2 linked regions of the Homo sapiens genome follow. The protein of the gene in region 1 purifies or fractionates together with the protein of each later gene. This does not show direct contact. Each region holds a gene or a part of one and is shown on either strand. Other genes may lie near its edges.

What was found.
Region 2: the proteins of FAM86B2 (region 1) and RFFL purify together in Homo sapiens (co-immunoprecipitation; one large-scale study listed by IntAct). This does not show direct contact.

The regions. Positions count from the first base shown.
Region 1 is NC_000008.11:12,426,296-12,430,114, forward strand, and holds part of FAM86B2 (putative protein N-methyltransferase FAM86B2), read right to left. Parts: intron 2,820-3,819; coding exon 2,686-2,819; intron 2,604-2,685; coding exon 2,338-2,603; intron 1,512-2,337; coding exon 1,362-1,511; intron 1-1,361.
Region 2 is NC_000017.11:35,057,023-35,060,841, forward strand, and holds part of RFFL (E3 ubiquitin-protein ligase rififylin), read right to left. Parts: intron 1-3,819.

The sequences.
Region 1 (3,819 bases):
AGTCAACTCACTCTTCACAAAGCTTAGAAAGTGGCCGGGCACAGCCAGACTCTGTCTCAAAAAAAAAAAAAGGTTGGTTGAGGCTTATACTATGTGTGCTGCTTGGCACTGTTTTTTTCACTTAAAAGATATTGCAGGTTTTTTTTCACGTAAGTATCTGAAGAAAGACTTCCTTTTTTTTTTTTTTTTTTTTTTTTTTGCTTTTTTGCTTTTTTGAGACAGGGTCTTGCTCTGTTACCCACGCTGGAGTGCAGTGGTGAGATCAGGGCTCACTGCAGCCTCCACCTCATGGGCTGAAGCCATCCTCCCACCTCAGCCTCCCGAGTAGCTGGGACTACAGGTGTGTGCAACCACATCTGGCTAGTTTCTGTATGTTTTGTGAAGATGGGGTCCCACTATGTGGCCCAAGTTGGTCTTGAACACTTGGGGTCAAGTAGTCCTCCTGCTTTAGCTTCCTAAAGTGCTGGGATGACAGGCCTGAGCCCCGCGCCCGGCCAGCCTCCTGTGCGAGGTTGTGTGGGACTCTGTCATGGAACCCAGTATGCCTTCATGTGCTGGCTTGTTTGTTGACTCTGTAGTTAATGGGCTGCCCCACGTGGACAGGCACTGGGTCATCCATGTCTCTGTGTACAGGCAGAGGCTGCTGCGGGTACATCTGTGCACATGGCTGCCAGGAGGGGCTGTGCTCAGGGGGAGCTGGGGCAGAGGCTGGTGGCAATGGGGGGCTTGGGTGTAGTGTGGAGGCACGAGAGCCAGGTGGCCGGGCTGCAGTCTGCGGGAGCTCGGGGGTCACTTGGCCTCTGTGTGTCCTAGTGTCTTTGTCGGTGAGATGGGACAATGACAGCACACCCTCACAGGTGCTGGGGGTTGACAAATGTCAGGTCTGAGGACAGTGGCTGGCCCACTACGGGGCCAGTTTCCCTTCTCTATAGTCACCCTGCTCGTCTTCCATCAACTGGGTGCTCAGGACAGTGGCGTGGTGGATCCGCCTGTACAGCCTGTGCTCCAGCGTCCTGCAGTCCACAGCTGTGTCCAGCCCTGACCCCGACTGCCGCTCTCGCCACCTCCATTTTATAGATGAGGAAACCGAGGCCCAAGGGCTTAGGGAACCCTGCTCTGAAGCACATAGTAGGGCTGCTGGGCTCAGACCCTCCCTCCCTGTGCTGAGGTGTCCTCCTCCTGCCTCAAGCCCCCCACGCCCCGAGCCCACCCTGCTCACCGGCCTCTGCCCGAGTTCCCCGCATAGTGTGGGAGTGTGGAGCATCCTAGCTTTTCCCCAGCGCCCAGTTCTTTCACTTCCACTGGAGTCCTGCAGGGACAGCTCGGGCACCATGTAGGCCCGGGTGGGCGTGGGGGTTCACCTAGCTCGGTGGTGAACAGCTGGCATGTCTCTGGGTTGCGGACGGTAAAGGCCACGTAGACCTCAGGAGCCCGCTTGTGCTCCCGGCAGGCAGCCAGCCTCTGCAGGACCCCGACCAGCGACACGATGGCTTCTGGGCAATACAGCACGTCTACGGTGAAAGTTTCAGGTTACTGAAAGGGACAAGTGGAAAGTTCCAGTTCATGCTGACCTCAGCAGCAGGGCGAGGCCAGAGAGGCAGCGGTCATATGAGACTATTAGATGCCATTTGACCATTTGGGCCATTAGATGGAAAGGCAATTATTTGGGTGAAAAAGGAGAACCCTTATTAGAGAAAGCTGCAAAAGACCGAAGCAAAAGAAAAAAATCTCCAGACTCACTGGTGTCCTTAAAAAACCAGCTCTGGTTCTCGGCCTGTCTAGAGGGCTTTCAATGACAGAAAGCCTGACCCTGCCGTGAACTTCGTGTTTCAGGTGTCTGCCGATTGGTCTGCTGGCTTGCAGGGGTGGGCCTGTGTCCCTGGCCACCGCTGGACCTGTGGGTTTCAGGGCTGGGACCCAGGACTACAGGCAGAGTTCTGTTCCACCAGAGAGGGGACTGAGTGTGCTCACAGGGGTGAGGGGTTTTCGGTGGCCCAGCCAAACAGCACCTTCTCTCAAGGGCCCTGACCTCGTACCAGAAGTGGTTGTTTTCCTCCTGCGGTCTCTGAAGGACACAGGGCATGGCTCTGGGACAGAGCCATGTGGTGACGACTGTAACGGGAGTATGCCTGTCTCCAACAACAGGGCTGTGGCTTGAAGGTCACCTTAAGAGGCACCCCTGTCCTTTGATGTCACCCTGGAGGCCCAGAGTAACTCTTCTGGAAGCCCCATCACGTCCATGCCCGACAGTGTCCATTGTTCCCTTTTCCCAGAGCCAAGAGCTGGGTAGAGCTGCAAGGACACCGCCTGCACAGGATGCCCGGGGCTGGGCATTACCTGCTGCAATGACAACATCTGGCTGGAAGGCAGAGAGCTGATGGACCATTGCTACGTCCCAGTCCAGCTGGGCCACTGTCACCCTGGGGCTGTCTAAGTTGCCAGTGATGTCTGCCTCTAATGAGAGGCCATTGAGAAGGACATTCCCTCGGAGCTGCTCGAGGATCCGGCTGTGAGGGTCGCTGAAGATGTATGCCCGGGGGCGGCACATCTTGCAGATGGCAAGGCCTGTGAGGCCGGCACCACTGCCAAGCTCTAGGACAGTCCTGGCGGGAGGAAAGGGGACCGTGTTTTCGACTGCACCAGGGTAAGCCTGCCTCGGTGCCCTGCCCTGTGCCCCAAGGTCACCTGTTAATGAAGGCTGCCGGGTTCTCGATGGCCCATTCTGCAAGGTAGAGGGCGGCATCCCATGTGACCAGGCCTGTGGTACCGTGGGAGATGATGGCTGTGCTCTTGGAGAGTGTGACTGAGCCTCCTGAGGACTGCACCAAGAGAGGGCGAGAGAGTCAGTCCAGCGATCAGAAGGCAAGTGGCTTAGAAGACAAGTAGCCATCCACCACATGGCTGAATAAACCATGACAGGACCAATCGCCACTCAGCAATGAGAAGCAGCTAACTGTTGACATACCAACAGTTGCACGGGCCTCAAGGGTGTCACGCGGCATGAAAGACACTCATCTCAGGCCACACAGGATTCCATCTATTGAACATTCCTGAGACAACGGAATTCTGGCGATGGAGCACAGGTCAGTGGTGGCCAGGGGCCAGGTGTGGCTATGAAGAGGTGGCTGCCTTGTGATGATTCAATATGCTATGTTTTTCCTTTGTGGTTTTCTGTATCTATGTTTTATCTCATTTTTTTTTTTTTGAGCTCTGTCACCCAGGCTGGAGTCAGTGGCACGATCTTGGCTTACTGCAACATCTGCCTCCTGGGTTCAAGCAATTCTCCTGCCTCACCTGCCCAGGTAGCTGTGACTACAGGCGTGTGCCACCATGTCTAGCTAATTTTTGTACTTTTTTTTGAGACACAGATTCACTCTCGTTGCCGAGGCCGGAGTGCAATAGCACGATCTCGGCTCACTACAACCTCCACCTCCCGGGTTCAAGAGATTCTCCTGCCTCAGCCTCCCGAGTAACTGGGATTACAGGCGCCCACTACCACACCCCGTTAATTTTTGTATTTTTAGTAAAGATGGATTTTCACCATGTTGGCCAAGCTGGTCTCAAACTCCTGACCTCAGGTGATCCCCTTGCCTCAGCCTCCCAATGTGCTGGGATTACAGACATGAGCCACCACGCCTGGCCTAATTTTTGTATTTTTAGTAGAGACAGGGTTTCACCATATTGGCCAGGCTGGTCTCGAACTCCTGACCTCAGATCCACCCGCCTTGGCCTCCCAAAGTGCTGGGATTACAGGCATGAGAGACCATGTCCAGCCCTGTCAAGTATTCTTTGAGGACTGGGCACCAGGTCCTTGTGAAG
Region 2 (3,819 bases), on another chromosome or scaffold:
CTCCTGCCTCAGCCTCCCGAGTAGCACGGATTACAGGCATAAGCCACCATGCCTGGCTAAAATTTTTTATATTTTTAGTAGAGATGGGGTTTCACCACGTTGACCAGGCTGGTCTCAAACTCCTGACCTCAGGTGATCCACCTGCCTCAGCCTCCCAAAGTGCTAGGATTACAGGTGTGAGCCACCATGCCCAGCCCCACCACACTTTTGAGTGAAGGCTAGACTCACTATCTAGCCCACAAAGTCCCCATGTGATGTGGGCTCTGCTTGCCTTTTCCACTTTACCTCATGCAGCTCTCCCACTTCACTCACCTTGCTCTGTCCTTCGGTCACCTTCCTTCAATTCCTCAAAAATTATAAATTATTTATTGCCCCAGGGCCTACAAACTTGGGTTCCTTTTCTGGCTGAAACATTCTCCCTAGCTCTTTTCACAAGACTGGCTCCTTCTCAGACTGCAGTTCACCTTCCCTATAACATAGCTGTCTGGCACACAGTAGGAGCTTACCAGGTATTTGTGAAAGGAACAGATTTCACATTCTCCAGTCAGGTAACTCCCAAAAGTGAATATCTGGAATCAATCTCACCCTTCAGATCAGTGCTTCATTTCTAAATGCCTGCTAAATTTCCATACCTCAAACTTAGCATACTAGATATAAAACCAACTCTTCCATTTTCCCAAACCAGTTTCTCCAGTTTTCTGAAATTACATGAGCAATATGATCCAGTTTCCACTTCAGAACAATAAATTTCCCATTCATTTGCTCTACCTGTCCAAAATTCCAATCACCTTTAAAGCTAAATTCAAATATCACTTCATTCAATCATGCATTCAATCAACCACTTATTCATTCAACAAGTACTTACTGAGTGCCTTTTATGAGGCAGACACTATGTTAGATACTCGAAAGCAAAGCAGATGTATTTTTGTCTATTATACATCAAACAATCATATAAATATTGAATTATGAACTAAAAAAAAAGTAATGAAGGAAAAATGCCAGAAAACATGAGAAAAAAATGAGAGGCATCAAGAAACACTGTTCTGATGATGGGCTGATTTAATGAAATATAATTTACACTAGGCAGACTGGAAAGAAGAGCATGCTAGATAGGATTCAATCAAGTCCTAGAAGCAGGAGAGATGAGATCTATCTCAATGTACATATCATCTTGCCTTACATATTATATCTATCTATCCCCCCCCACCATACTCATTTTACTGATAGTTACCTGAAAGAAAGGACATAGAGTGTCTCTTATGTGCCAACACAACACCCCCAGGAGACACTGAGTCACTGGTCTGGTACCTAGGAGCTTATGCTTGTAAAAAGCTCCCAGATGACTCTATATGCAGCCAAATTTGTAAATCATATGCCCAAACTACCCATTTAATAAACATATATTGATTATTCTTTCATGAAAAATCTCTAAGGTCAGTGTGGTAAATTGTATCTAAAATTGGTGGTAGGCCAGGTGCGGTGGCTCACGCCTGTAATCCCAGCACTTTGGGAGGCCAAGGCGGGCAGATCATAAGGTCAGGAGTTCAAGACCAGCCTGACCAACATGGTGAAACCCCGTATCTACTAAAAATACAAAAATTAGCCAGGCGTGGTGGCAAGCAACTGTAATCCCAGCTACTCAGGAGGCTGAGGCAAGAGAATCACTTGAACCCGGGAGGCAAAGGTTGCAGTGAGCCGAGATTGCGCCACTGCACTCCAGCCTGGGTGACAGAGCGAGACTCTGTTTCAAAAAATAAAGTTGGTAGTAATAATCCCAATCACATTGCATGCCCTTTTGCAATGTGATTTTTACCCTCTATCCTTTAGAGGTGAAGTCAATGTCCCCTCCTCTTGTATCTGGGCTATAATTGTGACTTACTCTGACAAAAAGAATGGGGCAAAAGTGATGATGTATGACTGCCAGGCCTAGGTCTTATGAGATCCTGCAGCTTCCATTATGGCCCAGCCACCATGTAAAAGAAGCTCGAGCTAGAATTTTTTTTTTTTTTTTTTTTTGAGACGGTCTCGCTCTGTCACCCAGGTTGGAGTGCAATGGCACAATCTTGGCTCACTGCAACCTCCGCCTCCCATGTTCAAGCAATTCTCCTGCCTCGGCCTCCCAAGTAGGTGGGATTACAGGTGCCCACCACCATACCCAGCTAATTTTTGTATTTTTAGTAGAGACGGGGTTTCACCATGTTGGTCAGGCTGGTCTGGAACTCCCGACCTCAGGTGATCCACTCACCTCGGCCTCCCAAAGTGCTGAGATTACAGGCATGAGCCACTGCGCTCGGCCACTCGATATAGGTTTATAAGTGATGAGAGACCAAGAAAGAGAACTCACAGAGAACCAAGATATCCCAGCCAACAGCTAGCTCCAAAGGTACAGACATGTGCAGCCTTCTTGGATCCTCCAGCTCAATCAGCATCATATGGGACAAAAAAAAATATGTCCTCCTTTCCTGAATTACTAACCCACAAAATCATAGGCAATAAAATGGTTGTCATGTTATGCCACCAAAAGTCTTCGGGTAATTTGTCACACAATAGACAACTGAAACAGTCAGAAATTCAACACTCTCTTGGGCAGTCATTCAAACATTTCCCCACTTTGATGATCAAAAAATTCTTTCTCGTATTCATCAAAATTGCTCCTCCTTCAATTTAAGACCATTTCCTCTTAAATCTTTGAAGTTCATGAAGAATAATTAATAAAAATCCCCCTGGCAAAACTATTCTTGTATTTGAAGATGATAATGAAGTTATCTCTTAGCTTTTCTTTCTCTAGGCTAAAATCTTTCCCCCCTTTTTAAAACTTATAATGATAAGACCTGTTTTTCAACCTTTTAATCATTTTAATTATCCTCTCAAGTATGAGAGACCCAAAATTGAACACCATATGCCAATATCTAACAGAGATTATTTCCTAGCTCTAATGGTTCAGCTTTTTATAATGGAATTTCTCATAGTCCCAAATATGGCATTTTAGCACTCCAAAAGTTGTGAAGTGATCTAAAAAGTTAATTACTTACTATAACTGTAAAAGGTTTTCTGCCCTTAACACTCAGCTTACTCCATTTTGGGATGACCGCTTTCACTCACCAGCCTGGTTTGATACTCCACCAGGGCAGCAGGTTTTCACAACTTCCAGATATTTGAAGTATAAAAGAAAAACCTGAGAGGTTGGAGTACGCACACCATTAATTTCAATCAAGGTCTCTAACCACAACCAGGGCCTTCCCATAGGTCAGGCAGGTTCAGAGTACCTCCTCCTCCTACCTTGATGATAAAGTGGCCTTGTAAAAGGCAAGACCGTTAGCACTTGCCTATCGAGCAAAGGCACCATTTCTGTGGAACCTGATAGAGTATATTTAACTACTATATTAAGAGACAAACCAGCTGCTTAATGCAGTGTAAGAACCATGTTTTCTCTCTGAGTCTTACCTAAATGTATATATGCTTTGGTATCAGACTAGCTTTATAATCACTGGTAAAATAGGGATAATAAATAAAGCCTACCCAACGCAAATAAAACCATATGAGGGAAATAATTTTGTAAAACACCATAAAAATGTCGTGATATTGCGGGACTAGATCTCAGCAAACCCTTTAAATCTTCAAATTAACTTTGAATGATTACTTGATGGTGGCAGGTAACACATACAAAATAAGCAGCCATGGGCTCATGTTCATCAAATAGGAATGAAAAACCATGCCATCTAACAAAAAAGCTTCTAATATTGCAAAGAATAACGGTTTGAGCCCGGAGATCCACGTCAGCCACTCTCTCTGATGGTGCCAAGCTCTAGTCCAGGGACA